Regions from separate parts of the Homo sapiens genome. Here regions 2, 3, 4 and 5 are each linked to region 1. The links come from fine-mapping of genetic effects on gene expression. A gene starts in region 1. Each other region holds a variant in brackets. All regions are shown on one strand. Distances are from middle to middle.

Evidence for each region. PIP is the estimated chance that this variant, and not a neighbour inherited with it, causes the effect. A credible set is the group of variants that fine-mapping cannot tell apart.
Region 2: its variant is the best candidate, but not a certain one, in a credible set for the expression of PLA2G4C in caudate (GTEx, PIP 0.61).
Region 3: its variant is the best candidate, but not a certain one, in a credible set for the expression of PLA2G4C in tibial nerve (GTEx, PIP 0.52).
Region 4: its variant is the best candidate, but not a certain one, in a credible set for the expression of PLA2G4C in whole blood (INTERVAL, PIP 0.52).
Region 5: its variant is the best candidate, but not a certain one, in a credible set for the expression of PLA2G4C in monocytes (Quach 2016, PIP 0.90).

Annotation. Positions count from the first base shown.
Region 1 is chr19:48,107,611-48,113,701 of GRCh38, reverse strand. PLA2G4C (phospholipase A2 group IVC) reads left to right here and starts at 2,885. Exons shown (of 17, transcript NM_003706.3): 1 at 2,885-3,215. RefSeq lists an enhancer at 2,910-3,069.
Region 2 is chr19:48,079,861-48,085,951 of GRCh38, reverse strand. PLA2G4C (phospholipase A2 group IVC) reads left to right here. Exons shown (of 17, transcript NM_003706.3): 10 at 840-893. Among named protein-coding and RNA genes, the nearest start is that of PLA2G4C-AS1, 22 kb to the right of the region's middle. The variant G/A (reference allele first, on the strand shown) is at 2,917.
Region 3 is chr19:48,151,166-48,155,404 of GRCh38, reverse strand. LIG1 (DNA ligase 1) reads left to right here. Exons shown (of 28, transcript NM_000234.3): 6 at 1,438-1,533; 7 at 4,066-4,173. It overlaps LIG1-AS1 (LIG1 antisense RNA 1), which reads right to left. Exons shown (of 3, transcript XR_007067281.1): 3 at 1-63. Among named protein-coding and RNA genes, the nearest start is that of LIG1-AS1, 7.4 kb to the right of the region's middle. The variant G/T (reference allele first, on the strand shown) is at 1,783.
Region 4 is chr19:48,159,896-48,165,986 of GRCh38, reverse strand. It overlaps LIG1 (DNA ligase 1), which reads left to right. Exons shown (of 28, transcript NM_000234.3): 2 at 364-437; 3 at 3,636-3,725; 4 at 4,480-4,615. The coding sequence starts at 421. Among named protein-coding and RNA genes, the nearest start is that of LIG1, 7.4 kb to the left of the region's middle. The variant T/A (reference allele first, on the strand shown) is at 3,358.
Region 5 is chr19:48,180,331-48,186,421 of GRCh38, reverse strand. It overlaps ZSWIM9 (zinc finger SWIM-type containing 9), which reads right to left. Exons shown (of 4, transcript NM_199341.4): 3 at 3,655-3,967. Among named protein-coding and RNA genes, the nearest start is that of ZSWIM9, 13 kb to the right of the region's middle. The variant G/T (reference allele first, on the strand shown) is at 3,283.

The DNA of each region.
Region 1 (6,091 bases):
CCAGAGCAGGAGGCCTCTAACCCCGGGGCCCAGCGTGGAACAGGAGCTTCCGGGCATGAGAGTGTCAGGGTGTCCTGATACTCCCGCAGGGGGGACACAGGGCTCCCAGCTGTCCCCTGCCCCTCACACTCTGTTTCTGCCTCTCACATCTGCCCTCCCTCCTTCCCTTCTCTCTCATCAGGTTCCTCTGCCCTTGTCTCCCACCCGCCCTCTCTCCCCTTCCTTCTCTATCTGCGAGGCTTTGCTCTCTGCCGTGCAAGTCTGTGCCAGGCTTACTTTGCTGTCTGTCACTGTGACTCAGCCTCCCTGTCTCTCTTCCTGTGTCTCCATCATGGTCTCTTGTGCACACAATCTCTTGGGCATTCTGTTTCTATTTGTTGTAGCCCAAGAAGACAACATTGCCTTCCGAGTCTCCTTGGGGCTAGCAGTGGCCCTGTAGCCCTGTGTGGGCAGACCCAGGGGACATAAGCACAGGGGCTGCTGGGGACTTCTGGAGAAACATCTTTCCTGACCAAAAAGGACAGCCCTGGTTGTGGCAGCTCCTCCCCTCCTCCTGCCTTGACTAGAGATGATGGCTGGAGCCAAGTCACCACCTTGTAATGATGAGGAAAAAGAGTAACAAACTCTCCTGACGACCCTAAACCGGCGAACCTAGGGCAGCAGCTGCCTAACTGTGGGCTTTTGTTCATGGGAGTAGGGGAAGAATAAGCCCCAGGGCGATTATGCCACTCTAAAACATGGCTTTCAGCCGGGCACAGTGGCTCATGCCTGTCATCCCAGCACTTCGGGAGGCCGAGGCGGGCAGATCACCTGAGGTCGGGAGTTCAAGACCAGCCTGACCAACATGGAGAAACCCCGTCTCCACTAAAAATACAAAATTAGCCGGGCGTAGTGGCACATGCCTGTTACTCCCAGCTACTCAGGAGGTTGAGGCAGGAGAATCGCTTGAACCCGGGAGGAGGAGGTTGCAGTGAGCCGAGATCGAGCCATTGCACTCCAGCCTGGGCAACAAGAGCAAAACTCCGTCTCAAAAAAAAAAAAAAAAAAAAAAAAGACTTGTTTCTCATAGCTAAGAGTTCCTGATACAGCTCTGCCTTAAAGAACTGGCAAATTAGTGTGCATTTGTGTTTCAATTTCAAATAAAATGTTTAAGGCAAAAAAAAAAAGTAAATGTTGTATGTCAGGGGATCCCCACATTACTGGCTTTGTGTGGAGACCATGGTTCCTTTGGGCTTGGCTCTTCCTCCCTGCACCAGTGCAGGGCCCCAGGAACACATCTGCCACACACGGCCGCCATGTCCCTCTGCTGAAGCTAGTCAGGGTCATCCTCACTCCTCAGTGACCCTCATGATGGCTCCACCAGGTAGGTACTTTTATTCTCCCCATTTAACAGGTGAGGACACTGAGGGGCACAGGGATGTAAGTTACCTTCCCTAGGTCCACTATCTAGGAAGTGGTGGGCCAGGGTTTGGTCCATGCTGTCAGCTCCTTGACCCTGCATCTATAACTACTAACTATACTGTGGAGAGCCTCATGAGCTCCTGCGAGGTGTAGAACCTTATCCCGCAGGCGGGGCAGTGGCATGGTCAGGTCTAGGAGTGAAAAGATCCTGCGATGGTTGGAGTTGCGGGCACTGAAGAGGTGAGCCTGGCGTTAGGGGGAGCAGGGGAGACCATCTTCCCCCTGGTGAAATCCTGTTCTAAAATTGGTGATACTCCTGCCTTGGCCTCCCAAAGTGCTAGGATTATGGCCTCATATCTATTTTTAAAAAATAAGAATTCAAGCTGGGTGCGGTGGCTCGCAACTGTAATCCCAGCACTTTGGGAAGCCGAGGCAGGTGGATCACTTGAGTTCAGCAGTTCGAGCCAGCCTGGCCAACATGGTGAAACCCTGTCTCTACTAAAAATACAAAAATAATTAGCCGGGCGTGGTGGCAGATGCCTATGTTCCCAGCTACTCGGGAGGCTGAGGTAGGAGAATCGCTTGAACCCAGGAGACGGAGGTTGCAGTGAGCCGAGATTGCACCACTGCACACCAGCCTGGGCGACAAAGAGTAAGACTCCATCTCAAAAAAAAAAAAAAAAAATTCAAAACCCATCGAGTTGGGATGACGCTTAGTGCTGGGCTTCAGGAAGAGTAGGCAGGAGGGTAGTATGGGAGGTTTCTAGGAGCCACTCTTGGAAGCGGTGCTCCCCACAGATGCCCGATTGCACTGACTGGAACTCGGTCACATGACCACATAACTCGCTCACATGACCACACCTAGCTGCAAAGGTGCTGGGAAATGTGGTACCCTGTTGGGAGGCCACTTCTGGGCTTCAAACCTTCACTGTGAATGGAGCTCACAGGTTTTCTAAAAATGGACATTAAATGAACCAGAGTTGGCCCTAAGGATCTGGCTCACTGCAACCTCCACCTCCCAGGATGAAGCACCTGCCTCAGCCTCCCGAGTAGTAGCTGGGATTACAGGCACACGCCACCATACCGAGCTAATTTTTGTATTTTTAGTAGAGAAGGTGTTTCACCATGTTGGCCAGGCTGGTCTCGAACTCCTGACTTCACATGATCCGCCTGCCTCAGCCTCCCAAAGTGCTAGGATTACAGGCGTAAGCCACCACGCCTGGCCTCAATATTTCTTTTTCTGGGTATTTGAGTATGATATTATATATGATGGTTATTAGACAGCCAGATGCATAGGAGGATTAGCTAATCTGTTTTGAGGAATACTTATCTCCAATATAGTTATATAACGACAACATTCTTTTTTTGAATACTGGTCTCGGGTGCCTAATGACAGAAGGGTGACATCACTAAGGAAGCCTGGAAAGTCCCAGCCCTCCACGTGATCCCACGGATGAAAATAGCTCCGGGTGAGCTCTGGAACAGCTGAAAAAGCTGGAGCAACCAAGCAGGGCCTACAAGCCGAGGAGGGCTGTTTAAAGGCGCAGGGGCCATTTTACCTCCAGGTTGGCCCTGCTCAGGACCAGGAGGAAACACCTCCAGCCCGCGACCTCCTCCCACAGGGGGAAAAGGAAAGCAGGAGGACCACAGAAGCTTTGGCACCGAGGATCCCCGCAGTCTTCACCCGCGGAGATTCCGGCTGAAGGAGCTGTCCAGCGACTACACCGCTAAGCGCAGGGAGCCCAAGCCTCCGCACCGGATTCCGGAGCACAAGCTCCACCGCGCATGCGCACACGCCCCAGACCCAGGCTCAGGCAAGCCGTGGGGGCAGGGAGGGCTGTTTCATCCCGCTGGGGCGGCCATAACCAAGTACCAGGGATTGGGTGCAATTAAATAACAGGATTTCTTTTTCTTTTTTATTTTATTTTATTTTATTTATTTATTTATTTTTTTTTGAGACAGCATCTCGCTCTGTCGCCTAGGCTGGAGTGCAGTGACGCGATCTCGGCTCACGGCAAGCTCCGCCTCCGGGGTTCAAGCGATTCTCCTGCCTCAACCTCCCGAGTAGCTGGGATTACAGGCGCACACCACCACACCCGGCTAATTTTTGTATTTTTAGTAGAGATGGGGTTTCACCATGTTGGCCAGGCTGGTCTCAAACTCCTGAACTCGTGATCCACCCCACTCGGCCTTCCAAAGTGCTGGGATTACAGGCGTGAGCCACCGCGCCCGGCTAGGAATTTATTTTCTAACACTTCTGGAAGCTAGAAGTCCAAGATCAAGGTGTTGGCAGGGTTGGTTTCTCCTGAAGCCTCTTGCAGAGGCCCTAATCTCTCCTTATAAAACCAATCAGGCTGGGCGCGGTGGCTCACGCCTGTAATCCCAGCCCTTTGGGAAGACGAGGCGGGCGGATCCTGAGGTCAGGAGATCGAGATCATCCTGGCTAACACAGTGAAACCCCGTCTCAACTAAAAATACAAAAAATTAGCTGGGCGTGGTGGCGGGCGCCTGTAGTCCCAGCTACTCCGGAGGCTGAGGCAGGAGAATGGCGTGAGCCCGGAAGGCGGAGCTTGCAGTGAGCCGAGACTGCGCCACTGCACTCCAGCCTAGGGCACAAAGCGAGACTCCATCTCAAAAAAAAATAAAATAAAATAAACCAATCAAACCAAATTCCAGGCCACCCTCAGGACCCCACTTTAACTTAGTCACCCCTTTAAGAGCCTATGTCTGGCCGAGTGCGATGACTCATGCCTATAATCCCAGCGTTTTGGGAAGCCAAGGTGGAAAGCTCTCTTGAGCCTAGGAGTTCAAGACCAGCCTGGGTGACATAACAAGACCTGATCTCTACAAAACATAAAAAATTTAGCTGGAGATGGTAGCATGTACCTGCACTTCCAGCTACTCGGGAGGCTGAGGTGAGAGGCTCGCTTGAGCCCAGGAGGCTGAGGCTGCAGTGAGCCACGATCACACCACTGCACTCCAGCCTGGGTGACAAAGCAAGACCCTGTCTCAAAAAGCAAACAACGAAAAAGAATCCTATGTCCAAATACAGTCACATTCTGAGGTTCTGGGGGTTACAAGTCCAACATATGAATTTGGAGGTGGTGGGGGGAAGCTGATTAATTTCATAAGGGGGGTCTTGAAACTGCCTTCGCAGAAATGTAAGTAATGAGAGAAAGCTAACATGACTGACCATCTTGTTTCTAACCTCACAGGCTAGATTTTTTTTTCTTATTCTAGTGCAGAGGCCAAAATTACCATGAGAGGAATTTAATTCATAGTTAAACTTTGAGACAAAGAAAACTGACCCCCAGTCCTTGTTGAGAGATTGAAGCCACATTCATTTACTTTTTATTTATTTATTTAGTTTTGAGACAGAGTTTCACTCTTGTTGCCCAGACTGGAGTGCAATGGCATGATCTCTGCTCACTGGCACCTCCACCTCCTGAGTTCAAGTGATTCTCCTCCCTCAGCCTCCTGAGTAGCTGGGATTACAGGCGCCCGCCATCATGCCCAGGTGACTTTTGTACTTTTAGTAGAGATAAGGTTTCACCATGTTGGCCAGGCTGGTCTCCAACTCCTGACCTCAAGTGATCCTCCCACCTCGGCCTCTTAAGGTGCTGGGATTACAGCCATGAGCCACTGTGCCTGGCCTGAAGTCACATTCATAAGACAAGGTTAGAATCATGAAGGTGCTGGAACTTTGCTAAAGAACAGTCGTGGGTTGAAGAATGACCTGCCATCCCTTAGCTTCCTTTTCTATATGTGCTCCAGAGTCACGTAACCAGGGGTCGCATGATTTATAACTTCCCCAGCTACTTCTATAAATAATATCACTGTCGTGAAACACAGAACTCAGCTTTTTAGTGGGGTGTGGTAGCTAACACCTGTAATCCCCACTTCTTGGGAGGCTGAGGCAGGAGGATTGCATGAGCCCGGGAGAATGAGACCAGCCTGGGCAACATAGTGAGACCTCAATCTCTACAAAAAAATTAAAACTTTGCCAGACGTGGTGGTGCATGCCTGTAGTCCCAGCAACCCAGGAGGCCAAGGCAGGAGGATTGCTTGAGCCCAAGAGTTGGAGGCTGCAGTGAGCTATGATTGCGCCACTGTAGGGACCAGCCCTGCAGGGTCTGTGGGTCTTTCTCCCCATGTGCGGAGACGAGAGATCGTAGAAATAAAAACACAAGACAAAGAGATAGAAGAAAAGACAGCTGGGCCTGGGGGACCACTACCACCAAGACGCAGAGACCGATAGTGGCCCCAAATGCCTGGCTGCGCTGTTATTTATTGGATAATAAGGGGCAGAGTAAGGAGTGTGAGTCATCTCCAATGATTGATAAGGTCATGTGAGTCACGTGTCCACTGGACAGGGAGCCCTTCTATGTTAGGTAGCCAAGGCGTAGAGAGAGAGGATAGCTTATGTCATTATTTCTTTTATGTTCTTTTCAGAAAGATCAAAGACTTTAATATTTTAATACTTTCACTAATTCTGCTACTGCTATCTAGAGGGTGCAGCCAGGTATACAGAGTGGAACAGGAAAGTGAAACAGGAGTGTGACCACTGAAGCACAGCATCACAGGGAGATGGTCAGGCCTCTGGATAACTGCGGGCGGGCCTGACATCACTCAGGCCCTCCACAGGAGGCGGTGGAGCAGAGTCTTCCCTAACTCCCCCGGGGAAAGGGAG
Region 2 (6,091 bases), 28 kb after region 1:
TTCCCTGGGTCCATACTGGGATCTGGGAGTGCATGCAGGGTTCTTCCCACAGCTCCTACTTATATTCCACGAACCTCCCCAAGTCATATCCTGCACTGAATAGGGTTAAGGCCTTACCCCAGAGACTGGACTTTCAGGCTCCCTGGTGTGGTGGGGGCGTGTGTCCTGCAAACAGTCTTTCCCCATCTCACACCCTGGGGACTCGCAGCCCTTCACTTGAGTCACAGTATAGGCTGCAGCCCGTCACTTCCTTCAAAGGGACTGTGGATTCCTTCAGATTTCCTGTCTAATTCCTGAATCACTTCTTGAAAAAAAAGTTCACAGTGTGAATCTCTACACAGTGTTTTGTCCTTCCAAGTGGGAGGGGTATGCCAGCAATGCCTCTAATCCAACATGTTTGCTGTCCTGCTCTTTCATAGTAGGACAGCTAGGACTTTCCAGAAGTGCCCCCATAAATCTGCATGGGCCAGAGCTTGACCTCCCTCTAGCTGCAAGGGAGGCTGGGAAATATTTGCCCTTCCTGCCTGTGGGCTGAGAAACGTTGGCATGGAAGGGAGCTTGAAATGGCCTTGGGGTAGCCAGTCTACAGTGCCCGGCTGGCTCCACCCATAGAAGGTTCCTGAGGACAAATCTGTCTTGTTTACTGCTCTATTCCAACAGTCAGAAGAGTGCCGGGTGCCCACTGATTGCTTCATAAATATTTATGGAATGGAAGAATGATCTTTCTTCCTGCTGCAGATCCCTGCAGTGCTTTATGCCAGTCTGCTGGTGCTTTGAATATCAAACATGACAGTCATGTGATGGAGAATGTTTGAATTTTATTGCTATTTTCTTGGCAGGTTTATGGAGAAGGGCTGTTGCTAATGCTAAAAGCATTGGACACCTTATTTTTGGTGAGTATTTGGGGAACAGAAAGGTCAAAGCCTAGAGATATTTTATGCAAGGAGATTCACAGTACTTTTCCTGCATGTGGCAGAAAAGAGGCCTGTGTATAATGGTTCTAACAACCACATTTCCTGACATTTATTCTCATACACTGAACATTGATTATGGGCAGCCAGGAAGACCACAGAGTGGATGAGAGTACAGACACCCTTGGAAGGAATGTTGCTGTGGTACATGTGAGCTTTGTGACCTCTGAAAAGTTACCTAACCTCTCTGTGCCTCAGTTTCTGCCTCTGTGCCATGTGGGTGATAATAATAGTAGTTATGAGGATTAAATGAGTTAATTCATCAAAAGCACATAGGACAGTGTCTGGTAGATAAAGGCACTCAGTAAACATTAGCAATCTGGCTGGATGCAGTGGCTGACACCCGTAATCGCAACACTTGGGAGGCTAAGGCGGGCGGATCATTTGAGGCCAGGAGTTCAGGTTTCTGATCCTGGCCAACAGGTGTGTGGAGCTGGTGCCTGCTACTTCCAGGCCTGGCTACAAAAGGCCTTCTGTGGCTCTCCAGCTCTCTCCTCTCATGGAACAGACAAGGAGACCTTGTGCCAAGAGGAGAAGCTCTTAAACCCAGGAGGCGGAGGTTGCAGTGAGCTGAGATCACACCATTGCACTCCAGCCTGGGCAACAAGATGCAAGCAGCCTGGCCCGGCGCAGTGGCTCATGCCTGTAATCCCAGCACTTTGGGAGGCCCAGGCGGACAGATCACTTGAGGTCAGGGGTTCGAGTGCAAGCTGGGTAACATGGTGAAAATGCGTCTCTACTAAAAATACAAAAATTAGCCAAGTATGGTGGTGCACGCCTGTGATCCCAGCTACTCAGGAGGTTGAGGCACAAGAATCGCTTGAAACCAGGAGGCAAAGGCTGCAGTGAGCTAAGATCACACCACTACAGTCCAGTCTGGGCAACAGAGCAAGACTCCATCACACACACACACACACACACACACACACACACACACACAAAATTGGCATTCGTTACCTGTTCATCATTTAACCCTTTGAATGACCTGAAGAAGTGGATGCTGTTGTCCCCTCCATTTTGCTGAGAGCCACCGGGTCATGGAAAGGATGCGTGACTCACCTATGTAACTGGTTGGTGAGTGCAGACACAGGGATCTATAGGGGAATCGTATGGTGGTTCTGATCCAAAGCCTGTCTGCCTGAATCCACATCCCAGCTCCACCTCTCATGCGTTAGTGACCCTAGAAAGCTGCTTAAATTCTCTGTGAAAAAAATTAAAAAATAAAGAAATGAGGGGCCGGGCGCAGTGGCTCACACCTGTAATCTCAGCACTTTGGGAGGCTGAGGTGGGCAGATCACCTGAGGTCAGGAGTTTGAGACCAGCCTGACCAACGTGGAGAAACCCCATCTCTACTAAAAATACAAAATTAGCCGGGCGTGGTGGTACATGCCTGTAATCCCAGCTACACGGGAAGCTGAGGCAGGAGAATCGCTTGAACCCAGGAGGTGGAGGTTGCAGTGAGCTGAGATCACACCATTGCACTCCAGCCTGGGCAACAAGAGTGAAACACAGTCTCAAAAAAAAAAAAAGAAAAAAGAAAAAGAAAAAGAAAAAAAAGAAATGAAACAAACAAAAAAAAAAAAAAAAAGAAAAGAAAATCAACAACAACAACAAAATTCTCTGTGACCCAATTTCTCCTTTGTAAAATGGATACAATAGTGCATAGCCCCAATCTTGTATATTTATATCAAATAAATGTAAATATACATCAAATATACAAGATTGGGACTATGTACTATTTGATGTGGGGTTTAAATGACCTCATGTATGTAAAGTACTTAGAGCAAAGCTTGACACATGGGAGTGTCCTCTTAAATGTCAATATTATTTTTATTATGTCTTGTATTGTTAGAAAAAGCAAGCCAGGGCCAGGCGCGGTGGCTCACGCCTGTAATCCCAGCACTTTGTGGGGGCCGAGGCGGGTGGATCACCAGGTCAGGAGATC[G/A]AGACCATCCTGGCTAACATGGTGAAACTCCGTCTCTACTAAAAAATACAAAAAATTAGCCGGGCGTAGTGGCGGGCGCCTGTAGTCCCAGCTACTCGGGAGGCTGAGGCAGGAGAATGGCGTGAACCTGGGAGGCAGAGTTTGCGGTGAGCCAAGATCGAGCCACTGCACTCCAGCCTGGGCGACAGAGCGAGACTCCGTCTCAAAAAAAAAAAAAAAAGAAAGAAAGAAAAAGCAAGCCGGGCACAGTGGCTCACGCCTGTAATCCCAGCACTTTGGGAGGTTGAGGTGGGTGGATCACTTGAGGTCAGGAGTCCGAGACCAGCCCAGCCAACATGGTGAAACCTCGTTTCTACTAAAAATATAAAAATTAACTGGGCATGGTGGCGGGCGCCTGTAACCCCAGCTACTCGGGAGGCTGAAGCAGGGGAATTGCTCGAACCCGGGAGGCAGGGGTTGCAGTGAGCCGAGATCGCACCACTATACTCCAGGCTGGGCAACAGATCGAGACTGTGTCTCAAAAAAAAAAAAAAAAAAAAGAAAGAAAGAAAGAAAAAGAAAAAAAAGCAGACAAAATTTATTTATTGACAATTCAAAAATTTGAAAAAGATGAAGCAGAAGCTTGACCTAACCGACGTGTATCAGGACTTAGCTTTCTATCGCATTTTCAGCACATGTGGAAAAATTGAATTTTGATTTGGTCTCAAGTAAAAAGTTATAACATGTACAATATTTTAATTATAAGGATCAACACTGCTACTATTAGGTAATAATATTTTTAAATATTAAGATTTTTTTGTTTTTTTTTGAATTTTTACTTCAATAGCTTTTGGGGTACAAGTGGTTTCTGTTACACGATGAATTATGTAGTAGTAAATTCTGAGACTGTAGTCCACCCATCAGTGTATGTTTTAGAGTATGTTGCATTCAATATGTAGTTTTTTGGTTTTGTTTTTTGTGACAGTCTCACTCTGTTGCCCAGGCTGGAGTGCAGTAGCAAGATCTCGTCTCACTGCAACCTCTGTATCCTGGGTTCAAGTGCTTCTCCTGCCTCAGCCTCCCTAGTAGGTGGAATTACAGGCACGTACCACCATGCCCGGCTAATTTTTATATTTTTAGTAGAGATGAGGTTTTGCCATGTTGGTCAGGCTGGTCTCGAACTTCTGAGCTCAAGCAATCTGCCCGCCTCAGCCTCCCAAAGTGCTGGGATTACAGGCATGAGCCACCACACCTGGCCCCAATGTGTAGTGTTTTTTTGTTTTTGTTCTTGTTTTTTGAGACGGAATTTCACTCTTGTTGCCCAGGCTGGAGTGCAATGGAGCGATCTCTGCTCACCGCAACCTCCACCTCCTGGGTTCAAGCCATTCTCCTGCCTCAACCTCCCGAGTAGCTGGGATTACAGGCATGCACCACCATGCCTGGCTAATTTTGTATTTTTTTAGTACAGACAGGGTTTCTCCATGTTGCTCAGACTGGTCTCGAACTCCTGACCTCAGGTGATCCACCTGCCTCGGCCTCCCAAAGTGCCGGGATTACAGGCATGACCCACCACTCCTGGCCCCAATGTGTAGTTTTTTATCCCCACCTCCCTACCCTCCTCTTTCTGAATCTCTGAAGTCCGTTATGCCACTCTGTATGCCTTTGCGTACCCATAGCTTAGCTCCCACTTATAAGTGAGAACATATGGTTTTTGGTTTTACATTCCTGAGTTACTTTACTTAGAATGATGGCCTCCATCCAAGTTTCTGCAAAAGACATTATTTTATTCTTTTTTATGGCTGAGTCATATTCCATGGTGTTTATATACCACATATTCTGTATCCACTCATTTGTCAATGGGCACTTAGGTGGGTTCATATCTTTTTTTTTTTTTGAGACAGTCTCACTCTGTCACCCAAGCTGGAGTGCAGTGGCGCGATCTCGGCTCACCGCAAGCTCCGCCTCCCAGGTTCACGCCATTCTCCTGGCCCAGCCTCCTGAGTAGCTGGGACTACAGGCACCCACCACTGCGCCCAGCTAATTTTTTTTTTTTTTTTTTTTTTGTATTTTTAGTAGAGACCGGTGTTAGCCAGGATAGTCTCGATCTCCTGACCTCATGATCCACCCGCCTCAGCCTCCCAAAGTGCTGGGATTACAGGCATGAGCCACCATGCTCGGCTGGTTCCATATCTTTCAATTGTGAATTGTGCTGCTATAAACATACATGTGCATGTGTCTTTTTTTTTTTTTTTTGAGGCAGAGTCTCGCTCTGTTGCCCAGGCTGGAATGCAGTGGTGCAATCTCACTGCAACCTCCAACTCGTGGGTTCAAGTGATTCTCCTGCCTCAGCCTCCCAAGTAGCTGGGACTACAGATGTGCACCACCGCATCCAGCTAATTTTTGTATTTTTAGTAGAGATGGGGTTTCACCATGTTGGCCAGGCTGGTCTTGAACGCCTGACCTCGAGTGATCTCCCCTCCTCAGCCTCCCAAAGTGTTGGGATTACAGGCGTGAGCCACTGCACCCAGCCCACAAGTGTCTTTTTCATATAATGGCTGCCTTTCCTTTGGGTAGATACCCAGTAGTGGGATTGCTGGATCGAACGGTAGATCTACTTTTAGTTCTCTGAGGACTCTCCATACTGTTTTCCATAGAGGTTGTACTAATTTACATTCCCACCAGCAGTGTGTGAGTGTTCCATTTGCACCGCATCCACACCAACGTCTATGGTTTTTTTTGAATTTTTATCAATGGCCATTCTTGTGGGAGTAAGATGGTATCTCATTGTGGCTTTCATTTGCGTTTCTTTAATGATTAGTGATGCTGACCATTTTTTTCATATGTTTCTTGGCCACTGGAATATCTTCTTTTGAGAAATGTCTATTCATATCATTGGGATGCTTTTCGGTGGGATTATTCGTTTTCTTGCTGATTTCTTTGAGTTCCTTATAGGTTCTGTATAATCGTCTTTTGTGGATGCCTAGTTTGCAAATATTTGCTCGCATTCAGTGGGTTGTGTGTTTACTCTGATAATTACTTCCTTTGCTGTACAGAAGCTTTTTAATTTACTCAGGTCCCATATATTTGTTTATTTTTGAGACGGAGTCTCACTCCATCACCCAGGCTTCAGTGCAGCAGCACGATCTCGGCTCACTGCAATCTCCGCCTCCCAGACTCAAGCAATTCTCCTGCCTCA
Region 3 (4,239 bases), 43 kb before region 1:
GAACAGCATGGGATGTTTGGGGCCTCTCATCTACTTCCTTGTTTCTGGAGAATCGGATGCGACCTGGGAAGCAGGGAGAGTTTGAGGATAGCACGTGGTGAGAGGTGAGCTAGAGAGGAGAGTGGGGGCTGGATCTCAAAAGGTCTTGCACTCCCAGCTAAGGAGCCTGGGCTTCGTGCTGTGGGTCCTGGGAGCCATGGAAGGGCTGTGAGGTGGGGAGGCAGGTTCATCCCTGAATGAAAGGTGGCCATAAGGAAGTCACAGTGTGGCTGAGGGCATGCTGGGAGCTCCAGGTGGACGCTGAGGTTGGCCCTGGGGGTGTGTCAGGGGATCTTGTTCAGAGGGAGCAACATTGAGCTATGTCCCAAACCTCACATGCTGAGGCCTGGAGGGGTGACACAGCTTGGTGTGTCTGGAAACACCCCAGTTTAGCAGTGATATAAAAGAAGGTGGAGTATGTGGTGTGGGAAGGGTTAGAAGGTCAGATGGAGAGAGATTAGGTAGGATCGGGGTAGACATCAAAAGACTTTATCCTGGATAAAGCAGAGAATGTGGAGTCATGGAAGGGTTTTGAGCAGGGAGAGACAGTGCCAGCCATGCTGATAGAAGGTCCCTCTGGGGCCACGTGAAGGAGCCACTGGGGGCCGGGAGACCGGGGACCAGGTGGCGCAATGGCCAACATGAGATATAACAGTGAAGATGGGTACAACTGCCTTTGTGTGAGCTCTTCATCATGGGTTAGTATCTGAGTTTAGAGGCTTTTAGAAGCAGGTTCTGAAGCTCTGAAACAGGGATTCAAGTGCAAGTGGTTTGTTTAGGAGGTGCAGGGAACAGAGGGTGATTCAGGACAGGGGAGCAGCCAACACAGGATGTGCTGTTGGGTCTGCTATGTGTTGGGCAGCTGGAGCTTAGTTTTGTGGGATTCTCTGGGGAACGGTGTAAATGCTCCAGAGTGACCCCCGAGATGCGAGGCAGCTGGGGTATTTATACACCAACTCCTGCCGATCGTGGGGTGAGGGCCTCTCCTGGGGCTAGTTTATTCCCTGCCACTTCCAGACTTCTGAGGTTCCGGGGAAGCTGTCTGGAACACTTGGAGGCAGTTAAGATCTGAGGGGAGCAGTGGGGAGCTCAGGGGACCTGCTGGAATCGGTACTGTGCCAAGTACATTACATCATTGTTTACTCGTGGGGATTATTTCTATTCTGCAGTCGTGAGAGAGCAAAGCACAGAGAAATTAAGTAACCTGCCCAAGGTCACACAGCCAGGAAGCAGGAGGGATTGAAGGGTGCGGCCTGCACTGGGGCAGTGACTGTGTGCAGGCAGAGAAGGGGAGAGGGCCCAGAGCCTTCCAGAGGCTACATCAGTGGGTGTGAGCTCTCCGGGATGGGAGCACACGAGCCAGCGAGGTCAGATACACCAAGCCCTTTGCCTCCCCAGCTCGGAAGCAGCTCCCGAAACGGACCATTCAGGAAGTCCTGGAAGAGCAGAGTGAGGACGAGGACAGAGAAGCCAAGAGGAAGAAGGAGGAGGAAGGTGAGCCCCCAGAAGGAGAGAAGTGTGTGTGTGTGTGTGTGTGTGTGTGTGAAGCCAAGAGGAAGGAGGAGGAGGAAGGTGAGCCCCCAGAAGGAGAGGTGTGTGTGTGTGTGTGTGTGTGTGTGTGTGTGTGAAGCCAAGAGGAAGGAGGAGGAGGAAGGTGAGCCCCCAGAAGGAGAGGTGTGTGTGTGTGTGTGTGTGTGTGTGTGTGTGTGTGTGTGTGTGTGTGTGTGTTTTGGATCTGCAAGG[G/T]CAGGGGCCTGAGAGCTCAGGATGTTTGGACCCTGCCGATTTGATGCCTGTGTCCAGGCATCCAGGAATTCCACCTACCAATATGGGAACTTTTGTTCTGAAAACATTGTGGGATATATTTGTTTGGACATCTTAATTTAGTAATAATTCAGGCACAGTTTCCCATTTTTATTTGCTATTTTTATATTTATTTAATGGAAACTATTTTTCCTCTAAATGATTTCCTTTTCCTTGTAAATTTTACCATAAAGTTGCAGTTCCCAAACATTCTTAGTTCACAGCACCCTTGATGTCTTAGTAATTTTTTTATGATGCTCCTAGGCCAATACCTTATCAGTTCTATTAAGTAGTTATGTCCAAACAACTATTAGATACTATACATACATTGGAAAAAAAGTAATATTTGTGCTTTTTTTTTTTTTTTTTTTTTGAGACAGTCTCACTGTGTCGCTCAGGCTACAGTGCAGTGGCACAGTTTGGGCTCACTGCAGTCTCCACCTCCCAGGCTCAAGCGATTCTCCCACCTCAGCTTCCCGAGTAGCTGGGATTACAGACACACCACCACGCCCAGCTAATTTTTGTATTTTTAGTAGAGACAGGGTTTCACTATGTTGACCAAGCTGGTCTCGAACTCCTGAGCTCACATGATCTGCCCACCTCGGCCTCACAAAGCCCTGGGATTACAGGCGTGAGCCACTGCGCCCAGCCTGTATTTTGTTCTTAAATAACCATAATTACTTGTGGGAAATGCCTTGGATACTCTGTAACATCTTAAACAGTGGAATTCAATTGAAAACTGCCAACGTCATTTCCTGTTCTATGTTGATTTTTGTACAGTACTTGATTTTTATAGCAGCAACCTATGAAAACCCAGCTTTGCAGAGATGCAATGTCATTGCAAGGAATGTGATTTAATACTGAAAACTGAAATACCTCGAACTAGTAGTTCACACACTGGCCAGCAGGTGTCGCTGGGTTTCCTTTGAAAAATCTAAAATATCTTGCAGCGCCCAGTGAGTTCCCTGCATGTTGGTGAACCCACCGAAAACAGCCATAAAGATCTGATCGATTGATCATCTGGGGCCTGCATGAGATTACACCAATTGCAGCCTTTAACGTCATTTGGTTTTTTGTTTCTGCAAACAAATAAAAGGTCCATTTTCCAGGGCAGATTTAAATTTGGTTAAGATCTGATTTCTTGGCCAGGTGCAGTGGCTCACGCCTGTACTCCCAGCAGTTTGGGAGGCCGAAGCGGGTGGATCACTTGAGGTCGGGAGTTGGAGACCAGCCTGGCCAACATGGTGAAACCCCATCCCTACCAAAATTATAAAAATTAGCTGGGTATGGTGGCATGCGCCTGTAGTCCCAGCTACTCAGGAGGCTGAGGCATGAGAATCCCTTGAAACTGGGAGGTGGAGGTTGCAGTGAGCCGAGATTGTGCCACTGCACTCTAGCCTGGGCGACAGAGGGAGACTGTGTCTCAAAAAAAAAAGATTTGATTTCTTATTGACAATTTTTAGTACAAATTTTATTGTAAACTACACTTTTAGCCACTGTCAGTGTCCAGTGAGGGGTGGCGGGGGTGGCCTCTTTCTACTAAGGCAGATTTTTCCCAAGTTGGTTTTTGTAGTTTGTATTGTGACCCTAGAGGTAAGATTTTTTTTTTAACTTTGAAGATTTTTATTTTTGTCTATAACAGGCTGTCATTTGCATTTTTAACCCTTTCAGATTCTATTTTGGGGTGAATAACACTAAAGGAATCATTGGTAAGGAAAGACACACCATTTATGTCTCGGCTACATAGGCAAACGGGCTGGACCCCCTCAAGGTCGCTGCCTTGCTTGGGGTTGACAAGGAGCAGGGTCTTACGTGGCCCACTGCTTTACAGGCACATTGGATTGGCACAAGATAGAACTGTAAGACCTGCACTTTGGGAGGCCAAGGCGGGTGGCTCACCTGAGGTCAGTAGTTCAAGACCAGCCTGGCCAACATGGTGAAATCCCATCTCTACTAAAAATACAAAAAAATAGCTGGATGTGGTGGTGGGCGCCTGTCATCCCAGCTACTCGGGAGGCTGAGGCAGGAGAATCGCATGAACCCAGGAGGCAGAGGTTGCAGTGAGCCAAGATCACACCATTGCACTCCAGCCTGGGCGGTAAGAACGAAACTCTGTCTCAAAAAAAAGAACAGATGACAGATGAGGGCAGACTGTCTCCAGAGTCAAAATGCCCTTGTAGGTTCAATGGGATTTTTTTGCCATCTGACCGTTCTGTCTATCGTCAGAAGAGGAGACCCCGAAAGAAAGCCTCACAGAGGCTGAAGTGGCCACAGAGAAGGAAGGAGAAGACGGGGACCAGCCCACCACGCCTCCCAAGCCCCTAAAGACCTCCAGTGAGTTTCTGGTCCTCTCCTCCGCCCTGCCCCACCTCCTGATTTTGGGGTCAGAAGTCTTTGGAG
Region 4 (6,091 bases), 52 kb before region 1:
TAAGCTTCCACAGTTGTTTCACGGAATTATGTCATCACCTTAAAACAATTTTTCACTAACCTTTAAACTTAACTCCAAAAAAACCCATTTCAGGTCCTCAGTCTATTCCTCATATTAGATGAAAAACAGTCTTCTTATGGTAAAGGAGGCCTCTTATCTTTTTCTCTGATTTGGAGCTTTTATTCTGCACCAGTAAATCTCACCAGCAAATTATTTTGGTTCATAAAAACAGGAGTTTCTTTTTGAAGGGGAAATTCATGTTTCTGTTTTTTTTTTTCTTTCTTTCTTAAAGAAAGGGTTTTATGTGTGTTTAGATCTCTGCACAACCAATCACCTCAACAAGTGTTTGGATTTCTGTTCCAGGAGCAGCTGACAGACGAAGAAAAGTGCTGGACAGGAAGGGAGAATTCTGACGCCAACATGCAGCGAAGTATCATGTGAGCACCCTCCCTTGCCCCTGAGTCTTTCCTTCTCCAAGTCCTCTGTTTCTTTCTCTAAATCTGTACTTAAAAAAACAAACAAACAAACAAAAACTCTTACGTTAGATTTTGAGTTGGAATTTCCAGGAGTCAAGTAGTATGGAAAATGAGCCGTGGGATATGGAAGACAGTGTATTGAACAACAGTTTTTAGTTGCAAGGAGCAGAAACCCTAACGCAGTGGTTCTCAGTCAGCAGCAATTTTGCTCCCCAGGGAACATCTGGCAGCGTCTGGAGATTTTTTTTTTTTGAGTTGGAGTCTTGCTCTGTCACCCAGGCTGGAGTACAGTGGCGCAATCTCGGCTCACTGCAACCTCCGCCTCATGAGTTCAAGTGATTCTCCTGCCTCAGCCTCCTGAGTAGCTGGGATTATAGGCACGTGCCACCACGCCTGGCTAATTTTTGTATTTTTAGTAGAGACGGGGTTTCACCACGTTGGTCAGGCTGGTCTCAAACTCCTGACCTCGTGATCCGCCCACCTCGGCCTCCCAGAGTGCTGGGATTTCAGGCGTGAGCCACGGCGCCCGGCCAGTGTCTGGAGATATTTTTGGTTGTTACAACCTAGGGACAGAGGGTTTGCCATTGGCATCTAGTGGCTAAAAGCCAGGCATGCTGCTAAACATCCTTCAATTCATAGGACAGCCCCCCCAACAACACAGAACCATCAGGCCCAACATGTCAATAGTGTCTAGGTTGAGAAACCTCGTGTTAATGCAGTCCGGCTTCAGGAAGACAAGAAAGGGCATGACTTGACTTATATCATTGAAACCTGCTGGAGTAAACAGCCTCAGGCTTGGTTCGATCCAGTTGCCAAAACTTCCTCCCTGGGAATCTGTCTCTCTCCATTGTTCAGCTCTACTGTCCTTGAGGTTGTCCTCACCCTCAGGCGGGCTCTCCCCTCTTAGCGGTCCCCTTGGAAAGAGGGTGTTAGAGCCCAGTTTCACTGGCCCAGCCTGGGCCACATACCTATCCCTGAACCAGCCACAGGGATGCAGCCTGGATCACGTGTCCACCCCTGGTCACAGGCAAAAGGGCCAGCCCACTCAAATCGTGTGTACTGAGAGAATGTGGGGTAAGAAGCATCCCAAGAGGAAAACGGAGGGGCTGTTACCAGGAGGAAAAAATGGATGGTAGAGAGACCCAGACAAGGGCATCCATCCCAGAAACCTGGGCGGTAGTGGCTTACACAAATGCTGGGTTCCGTTTTTCTCCCGTGATGAGGAATCTGGGGATTGTCTCTCCAGGGCTGATGGTGCCTTCGATTGCTTTCTGTCCACTGGCTTTTGCATGATTTTTCCTTTTCTTTTTGAAGATTAAATAAACCTCTTATTCTGGAATAATTTTAGAGGTACAGGAAAGTTGCAAAGACAGTACAGAGAGGTCCTGTATACCCTTGGCCAGTTTCCATTGTCAATATCATACATTACTATGATCCGTTTCTCACCACTGAGATACTAATGTCAGTACATTACTCTTAACTGAACTCCATACTTTATTATTCAGATTTCACCAGATTTTTTTTTTAATGTTCACGCCTTCCAACATTTTTTTTTTTTTTTTTTTTGAGACAGAGTCTTGCTCTGTCGCCCAGGCTGGAGTGCAGTGGCGCGATCTTGGCTCACTGTAAGCTCTGCCTCCCAGGTTCAGGCCATTCCCCTGCCTCAGCCTCCTGAGTAGCTGGGACTACAGGCGCCTGCCACCACACCCAGCTAATTTTTTTTGTATTTTTAGTAGAAGCAGGGTTTCACCGTGTTAGCCAGGATGGTCTTGATCTCCTGACCTCGTGATCCGCCCACCTCGGCCTCCCAAAGTGTTGGGATTACAGGTGTGAGCCACCATGCCAGGCCCCAACATTTTATATTTAGTTGTTTGCTTAATATTTCTGCCCTTCACCAGAGTGTTAGCTTCTTGAAGGCAGGAACTTCGTGTGTCTGGGTCACTGCCAAACCCCTCAGGCCCAGAACAGGCCCTGGCACATAATAAGTGCTTAGGTAGGCCGGGCGCAGTGGCTCACACCTGTAATCCCAGCACTTTGGGAGGCAGGAGGATCACCTGAGATCAGGAGTTCGAGACCAGCCTGACCAACATGGTGAAACCCCTTCTCTACTAAATGAAAAAAATTAGCCGGGCGTGGTGGCGGCCACCTGTAATCTCAGCTACTCAGGAGGCTGAGGCAGGAGAAACACTTGAAACTGGGAGGCCGAGGTTGCAGTGAGCCGAGATTGCACCATTGCACTCCACCCTTGGGCAACAAGAGTGAAAACTCCATCTCAAAAAAAAAAATTTTTTTAGGCTGGGCGCGGGGGCACATGCCTGTAATCCCAACACTTTGGGAGGCCAGGGTGGGTGGATCACCTAAGGTCAGGAGTTTGAGACTGGCCTGGCCAACATGGAGAAAACCCGTGTCTACCAAAAATACAAAAAAAATTAGCTGGGCGTTGTGGTGGGCACCTGTAATCCCAGCTACTCGGGAGGCTGAGGCAGGAGAATCGCTTGAACCTGGGAGGCAGAAGTTGCAGTGAGCCGAGATCACACCATTGCACTCTAGCCTGGGCAACAGAGCGAGAGTCTGTCTAAAAAAAAAAGATTTAAAAAGTGCATAGTTAATATTTGTTGAATAAAACTTGGGATGTATCATATCTTGCAGGTGCGTTAGGGCAGAAAAATTAGTGTTGCCTCCTTTGTCTGAGTCTGAGTTTCCTTATCAGTTAAGTTAAAGGGCTTATTTGAAATTCTCTGTTATGTGCTGAGATGGAAATGGTGTTAGAAGTTATAGGATGCGGCCGGGCGCGGTGGCTTATGCCTGTAATCCCAGCACATTGGGAGGCCAAGCAGATCACAAGGTCAGGAGATCGAGACCATCCTGGCTAACACGGTGA[T/A]ACCCCATCTCTACTAAAAATACAAAAAATTAGCTGGGCATGGTGGCGGGTGCCTGTAGTTCCAGCTACTTGGGAGGCTGAGGCAGGAGAATGGCATGCACCCAGGAGGCGGAGCTTGCAGTGAGCTGAGATTGCGCCATTGCACTCCAGCCTGGGCTACAGAGCGAGACTCTGTCTCAAAAAAAAAAAAAAAAAAGGAAGTTATAGGATACAGCATAGATAGGCAGGGTATTGGTGCTGTTATTCTCCTTTTTTTACCCCCTTTTATGCTCCTCTAGGTCATTTTTCCACCCCAAGAAAGAGGGTAAAGCAAAGAAGCCTGAGAAGGAGGCATCCAATAGCAGCAGAGAGACGGAGCCCCCTCCAAAGTATGTCACAGGGCTGGGATATGGTGAATTTTTTCCTTTAGCAGTCAGGATTGTCTTGGTTGCAAGTGTTCAAACCTAATGCAAAATGTCTTGGGGCCCAAAAAACTTTTTCAGCCAGGTGGCCAGAAGTCCAAGAGCAAGAGCAGCTGCAGGCACAGCTGGATCCAGGGCCTCGGAGTTGTCTGTACGTCTCTGTTTCTGCAGGTCTTGGCCTCGTTCTAGAACCAGACATTCTCCATAATGCAGAGAAGCTGGCCGCTGGCCACTGGCCACGTCTTGATGCTGTCTCATCTAAGTAGAAGACAACAGTACTCTTTTTTTTTTGAAATGGAGTCTCACTCTCACCCAGGCTGGAGTGCAATGGTGTGATCTCGGCCCACTGCACTCCAGCCTGGGCGACAGAGCAAGATTCCATCTCAAAAAAAAAAAAAAAAAGGCATCCCAATAGATGCTGGAGACCAATGGCAACCTTAGGCAGGGACTCCATTTGCTCCTCAGCATCACCCATCACAGGGCAGGCACTCTGGAGACTTCCAGAGATGTGTGATGGGTGGGTGAGTGGATGAGTGGGCGGGTGGATTAATGCACTGATGGATGAAATGATGAGATTTGCTGAGGAGACAACCAGAAAATGTTCATTGGATGCTTGAAAGGAAGGGAAGGAAACAGCAAAGAAACCAAAGTGTTTGCGGGCAGTGCCCCCACTCTGCCTGCTGTAGTCGCCCCTTTACACCCCCATTTCCCCACCTTCCAGGGCGGCACTGAAGGAGTGGAATGGAGTGGTGTCCGAGAGTGACTCTCCGGTGAAGAGGCCAGGGAGGAAGGCGGCCCGGGTCCTGGGCAGCGAAGGGGAAGAGGAGGATGAAGCCCTTAGCCCTGCTAAAGGCCAGGTAGGTCCCCATCACCCTGCCCATTTTTACCAGAAGAAACTAATTCCCATTAACCTTTGGAACAGAGTGCAGCAGCTGTTCAGGAGAATTCTGGAGAAATTGCCCGGGAGAGGTAGATGTGTTTCCTGGTTGTGTCGGGGGCAGACACAACCTGGTCCTAATTGCCCCTGCCCTAGGACCTCGGGTGGGCTCCTTCACCACGTTAGGTCTTGGATGCCTCAACTGTAACATGCAGCTCCTGGTAACACCTTCCTCATAGGGTGACTGGGAAGATGAAATGAGTCGATTTACATACAGATCTGAGAATAATGCCTGATGGTAAAACAAGGGCTCAAGGCCCAGCACAATGGCTTACGTCTGTAATCCCAGCACGTTGGGAGGCCAACGTGGGAGGATCACTTGAGGCCAGGAGTTCGAGACCAGGCTGGGCAACATAGCGAGACCCCATCTCTACAAAAAAATGTTTTAAAAATTAGCCAGGTGTGGTGGTGCATGCCTGTGGTGCTATCTCCTTGAGAGGCTGAGGCAGGAGGATCGCTTGAGCCCGGGTGTTCAAGGCTGCAGTGAACTGTGATTGTACCACTGTACTCCAGCCGGGGTGACAGAGCAAGACCTTGCTTCAAAAAAAAAAAAGCAAAAAAATAAGGGTTCAAAAGTATATCTAGCCTCTCCTGTGGTCAGAGGGCTTTTTAACTTCTCCAAATACATTGGACCACTCTCTTCCCCTGTTTAAGTCATTTAATGCTTGTTCATTGCTTTGTGGATGATGTCCAAAGCGTGGTGCTGCTTATTCTGTCAGTGGTGAGGTCAGGTCCTGTGACTCCCTGCCCAAACCCCCTGGTATTACCACCACAGGCCAAAGCCAGGCCTTGTGGAAACCTCCCAGGCCCCTCCTGCTGCTCCTCTCTTCCCCCGCCCATCACATCTGCAGCCGCATCCACAGCTCCTCCTCAGCTCGCTCCATCCTGGCTTCCCACACCCACCAGGTGCACTTCCACCTCTGGGCCACTACCTTCTTTCCCAGCCTAAAACTCTCTTTCCCAGATACACGCCTGGCTCAGTCCCCTGCTTTCTTCCATGCTTTGCTCAGATATCACTTCCTCAGCGAAACTTTCCTCACCACCTATGTTAGCTTCCCATTTGCTGCCATAACAATTGACCACAAACGCAGTGGCTTAAAACAGTGTCAGTTTATTGTCTTACAGTTTGGGAGTCGTGAGTCTCAAATGGGTTGCACTGGGCTAAACTCAAGGTGTCAGCAGGTCTGCGTTCATTTCTGGGGGCTCTGGGGGAGAATCCAGGAATTGCCTTTTCCAGCTGCTAGAGATCCCCTTTTCTCCGTTTTCAAAGCAAGTGGCTGGGTGTGGTGGCTCACGCCTGTAATCCCAGCACTTTGGGAGGCCGAGGCAGGCAGATCACAAGGTCCGGAGATTGAGACCATCCTGGCTAACATGGTGAAACCATGTCTCTATCAAA
Region 5 (6,091 bases), 73 kb before region 1:
GGCTGAGGCAGGAGAATCACTTGAGCCCAGGAGGTGGAGGTTATAGTGAGCCAACAGCGTGCCACTGCACTCCAGCCTGGGTGACAGGAGTGAAACCCTGTCTCAAAGAACAAACAAACAAACAAACAAAAACAGCGTGTACACTAGGCTGCCCTGCTTGCTGGGGGTGGGGGGTGGCGGGGCAGAAAGAGGAAATAAAGTTAAAAATTAAAGTTAAACATACAGACATGCAAATTGACCTGTATATGTGCAGAGCTGCGCTGTCCAATCCAGAAGCCACTAGCTACATTAGGTTGTTTACATTTCGATAAATTAAATGACAAATTCAGTTCCTCAGTCATACTGGCCTCATTAAGCATTCTGTAGCCATGTGTGGCCAGTGGCCTCTGGATTGGACAGTACAGATAAGAACCATTTTCTTTCTTTTTATTTTTTTAGACAAGAGTGTCACTCTGTTACCTAGGCCAGAGTACAGTGGCATAATCTCAGCTCACTGCAACCTCTGCCTCCTGGGTTCAAGCGATTCTTGTGCCTCAGCCTCCCGAGTAGCTGAGATTACAGGCACCTGCCACCATGCCTGGCTAATTTTGAATTTTTAGTAGAGATCAGGTTTTGCCATGTTGGCCATGCTGGTCTCGAACTCCTGCCATCAGGTGATCCATCTGCCTCAGAGTCCCAAAGTGCTGGGATTACAGGTGTGAGTAACCATGCCTAGCCTGGATAAGGAACATTTCTATCATTGTAGAAAGTTCCACCGGGCAGTGCTGGTCCATAGGATAGAAAGCGAGATATGATTTATAAGCTGCTAATAACTCTGCAGGGGAGGGGACCTGGGGGACAGGATGTGATAAGACTTTTCACCACATACCTTTTTTAGAACCATGTGAATGTATGACATATTCAAAAAGTAAATATTTAAATGTTGCTTCACTAATCTGTCTCTCCTGTCCTAGAACTTCTTCCTCCTTTCTTTCAAGAGCATTAAGGGGCTGGGCACGGTGGCTCATGCCTGTAATCCCAGCACTTTGGGAGGCCAAGGCGGGGGGATCACCTGAGGTCAGGAGTTCAAGACCAGCCTGACCAACATGGAGAAACCCCGTCTCTTCTAAAAACACAAAAATTAGCATGGTGGCGCATGCCTGTAATCCCAGCTACTCAGGAGGCTGAGGCAGGAGAATCGTTTGAACCCGGGAGGCGGAGGTTGCGGTGAGCCAAGATTCCGCCATTGCACTCCAGCCTGGGTGACAAGAGCGAAACTCCGTCTCAAAAAAAAAAAAAAAAAAAGTATGAAAGCAGGTCAAAACACAGACGCAGGAGCCAACCGTGGTTTAGCCGAGATTCCAAGACAGCCTTCAAAATGAAAAGACAACTCCCCTTCCAGGGAAGGCTCTGATCTATGAATGAGCTGTTCTGCACAGGGACAATCCTGCAGAGGGTGGGTTCAGGGAAGAACAGCTGAGGCTTATTTATGTCATGGTGGGTAGTGGAGGAGAGTTACTAGATCAGCAAAGACCAGTGGAGTAGGAAGTGCATGTGTGTTTGTCCCCATGGTGAAGGTCATGGGTCTGGATCCAGGCTGTGTGGGTCCGAAGCCCAGCTCTGTCACTAAATAGCTGTGTGACTTTGAGCCAGTTACTTGACTTCTCTGTGCTTCAGTTTCCTTGTCTGTAAAATGGGGATGAGAATGGTGGACTATTTCCTCATAGGGCTCAGGTGAGATGAAAATGAGTTATAGTATGTAAAGCACTTAGGGTAGTGCCTGGCATATAGTAAGTGCTTGATAAACATTAGCTAAAATTATTATTATGTCGGGACAGAGGCCTGGGCTTGGGCTGGTGGCTTGAATCAGGGCTTCTTACTGGGCATGAGATGAAGACAGGAAGAGTGTGCCAGAGCTGAATCTCGACTTTACCCTGCCTTGGGACCTCTTCCACACACAAGGGAGACAAAGGCACAGCCAGGAGGAGAAACCAGTTCTTCCCCTACTTTCTCATCTTTCTTTCCTCTTTAAACTTCAAGTTCACCCCAAACTTGAAGTTGGATTAAAGCCGCAGAGATTCCTTATGGAGCAGCAGCCATCCTCACTGTTCCTCCAACACAAGCTTGCTCGTGCCTCTGGGCCTTTGCACTGGCTGTTCCTTCTGCCTAGAATTCTCTTCCCTCTGATGACAGAATGAGGGTCCCTTGCCTCTGTTCCATCTCCTCTGCTTCACCATCATTTGCTAAAGAGACCTTCCCTGACCAATTCAAACAGCACCCTTAGAACTGTCCCGCTCCAGGCCCCGGCCTTTTTCTCCTTGATGATAACTTATCGCTCCATCACATTACAGGACATAGCACTCTTCCTTCTCCTAATTCTCCATCTGCATGGTGGGTTCAGGTGTGTTCTCCCCTTGAGAACATTCATCAAACTAAGTATTTATCATTTGTGCATTTTCTGTTTGTGCAGTTCAATTAAAAAAAAAAAAATTTAAGTAGGCCTGGCGTGGTGGCTCATGCCTGTAATCCCAGCACTTTGGGAGGCCGAAGCAGGACTGCTTCAGTCTGGGAGTTCAAGACTAGCCTGGGCAACATAGGGAGACCCCCCCCCGCCAAACATCTCTACAAAAACTAAAAAATTAGCTGGGTGTGGTGGTGCACGCCTGTTGTCCCAGCTGCTCGGGAGAATGAGGTGGGAGGATTGCTTGAGCCTGGGACATCGAGGGTGCAGTGAGCCATGACTGCACCACTGCACTCAGCCTGGGTGACAGTGAGATCCTGTCTCAAAAAAAAAAAAGATTAAAAAAAAAAAACTTACATAGCATTTGTCATCACTGTGGCTCCCCTTCTTGCTAGCACCCAGCCAGCCCCTAGTGATGTTACATCATATTTGGACATGTTTGTCAGTTGTTGGTTTTTCCCGCCAGAACTGCAGGGGCGTTCTGGCAGTTACCTCTGCAAGGCAGCCAATAGCCATAGGTGGCTATTTAAATTTCAATTAATTAGAATAAATTCAGGCCGGGCGTGGTGGCTCTCGCCTGTAATCCTAGCACTTTGGGAGGCCGAGGCGGGCGGATCACAAGGTCAGGAGATCGAGACCATCCTGGCTAACATGGTGAAACCCCGTCTCTACTAAAAATACAAAAAAATTAGCCGGCGTGGTGGCACGCCCTGTAGTCCCAGGTACTCGGAAGGCTGAGACAGGAGAATCGCTTGAACCCGGGAGGCGGAGGTTGCAGTGAACCCAGATCGCACCACTGCACTCCAGCCTGGGTGATAGAGCACTCCAGCCTGGGTGACAGA[G/T]TGAGACTCCGTCTCAAAAAAATTAATTAATTAATTAATTAATTCAGTTCCTCAGTGTACTGGACACATTTCAAGTGCTCAGTAGCCACTTGTGGCTGGGGGTGCAGAATCACAGAACGTTTCCATCCTGGAAGAAAGTTCTACTGGGCAGCACTACCCTAGAAGGTAAGCTCTCTGCGGACAGAGACCACGTGGGTCTGGTTTGCTGCTGCATCCCCAATGCCTCGGTAAGTACTTATTGAATGAATGAACGGATGAATGGAGGAAAGGAGTGAAGGGATGAGAGGGCGGATGAAGGCATGAATGACCCACGAGTCTTCAGCGCGGCTTTCCCCCGCCCCCTCCCCCGGCCTGCCTCTCTCGAGACCCCACCTTGGCCTCGGGGTCGGTGCGGAAGAGGCCCTCGAGCACGTGCAGGGCGTCCAGGACGCCGTGGTCGCGGCCCTTGCAGTAGGACAGCAGGCGGCGCACGTCGGCTGGGGCCACGAACTGCTTGGAGATCTTGTTGGTGGTGCGCACCGGCAGGCAGGCGTTGGCCAGCAGGTGGCCCGGGCGGAAGTAGTAGGCGAACTCCAGCGGGCAGGCCGGGTGTGAGTGGGTCAGCTGGCACTCCGTCACCACGAGGCGGTCCCGCAGCGGGCTCAGCTTGACGATGATGAAGGCGGGGCAGCCGGGCTGGGGAGGCCTGTGGGAGGAACCACCACCGCCCTGGTCACATCACTCTGCTGCCCTCTTCTTCCTTTCCACTCACCTTTTTTTTTTTTTTAAACTAAGAATTGTTTCAGGCATAGAGAAGAGTAGAGGGCCCTAAGAATATGCCAGCTGTGTGACCTGGGGCAAGTCACTTCAAGTCTCTATGCCTCAGTTTCCTCATAGGTTACAAGGAAGGTCCTACTCATCATACCTTCCTCATAGGATCGTCATGAGCATGAAAAGAGTTAATATAGGTAAAGCACCTACACAGTGTCTGGAATATGGCAAGCAGTAAGTGTTCACTAAAATTCTATACCTACCACCCTTAGTTCTGTCAAAAGTGAGTGAATGTTTTATTGTATTTACCTTAACTTTTTTTAGAAATAAAAAATTTCAGATAGTCCTGTATCTGCTTCTGGTTTAGCAATAACATCAAAAGTTGAGGCCTTCTGTGAACGCTGCCCTAACAGATTATCTTCCTTCCCTCTGTCCCCAGAGGCAGCCACTATCAAAATTATCTATTAGCATTCCATGTATATTTTTATGCACCCATAAACAATGGGAGGTATGTTTCTGTGTGTTAAAAGCATTGTATACGTGAAAAAGGACTCAAACTCATTAGTCATCAAAGACATAACAAATTAAAACCCTAAGGAAATGCCACTACACATCAGCAGAATGGTCAAACAAAAGAGACTGATAACATCAAGTGTTGATGAGGACGTGGAGCAACTGGAACTCTCACCCATCACTGATGGGAACGTGAAATGGCACAAGCACTTTGGAAAACTTCATGGCAGTATCTACTAAAGCAAATTTTATGTCTCTCCTGTGACCCAGTGGTGCCACTCAAGACAAATGGGCATCTAAAGCTGTGTACGAGAATGTTCATAGCAGCACTATGTGTATTCGCCAAATACTTGAAACCTAAATATCCAACAATAGAGTGAGAAAATAAGTTGTGGTATATTCCTAAAATAAAACACTAATCAGCACCAAGAATGAACACACCATTACAACCTCCAACAACACGGATGAATCTCACAAACCTACCAAGTGAAAGAAGCCAGACATGAAAGAGAAACTGATATAATTCCCATTTATATAAAGTTCAACAGCAGGCAAAGTTAACCTCTATCGTTAGGAGGCTAGATAGTGGTTACCCTTAAGTGGTTAACCCTGTGAGGGGGCACCAGGAGGTTTCTTGGGACTGGACATATTCTGTTTCTTGTTCTGGGTGCTGGTTACCTCTGATTTTTTTTTTGGGAAAATTCATTCAGTTTCACACATATGATGTGTGTACTTTTCTGGATGTGTGTTACATTTTTTAAAAGTCTACTTCGAAAAAACTTTGTTTTTGGCCAGGCATGGTGGCTCACGCCTGTAATCCCAGCACTTTGGGAGGCTGAGGGGGGACGGATCACCTGAGATCAGGAGTTTGAGACCAGCCTGGCCAACATGGTGAAACCCTGTCTCTACTAAAAAAATATATATATATATATATTAGCCAGGCGTGCTGGCTAATAATAGGCTAATGGGATTACACCTGTAATTCCAGCTACTTGGGAGGCTGAGGAAGGAGAATGGCTTTAACCCGGGAGGCAGAGATTGCAGTGAGCCGAGATCGCACTACTGCACTCCAGCCTGGGGTGACAGAGCGAGACCCTGTCTCAAAGCAAAAAAAAAAAAAAAGAAAAAAGAAAAAAAGAAAAAGAAAACTCTTTGTTTCCGAGCATTGCGGTAGCAAGAATCATGGTTCCCCAAAATATTCACATCATAGTCACTGAAACTGTGCATATGCTGCCTTCCATGGCAAGAGGACCTTTGCGGGTGTGATGAAATTAAGGGTCTTGAGATGGGGAGAGTCTGGATTACCCAGGTAGGCCCAAATGTCATCACAAAGGTTCTTATAAGGGAAAGAGGGAAGTAAGAGGATCAAAGTCAGAGAGAGATTGAAAGATGCTACCTTCTAGCTTTAAAGATGGAGGAAGAGCCAGGCACAGTGGCACTTGCTTATAGTCCCAGTTACTCAGGAGGCTGAGCTGGGAGGATCATTTGAGTTCAGCCTGGGCAACATAGTGAGACTAGTGAGACCCCTACCTCTCAAAAAAAAAAA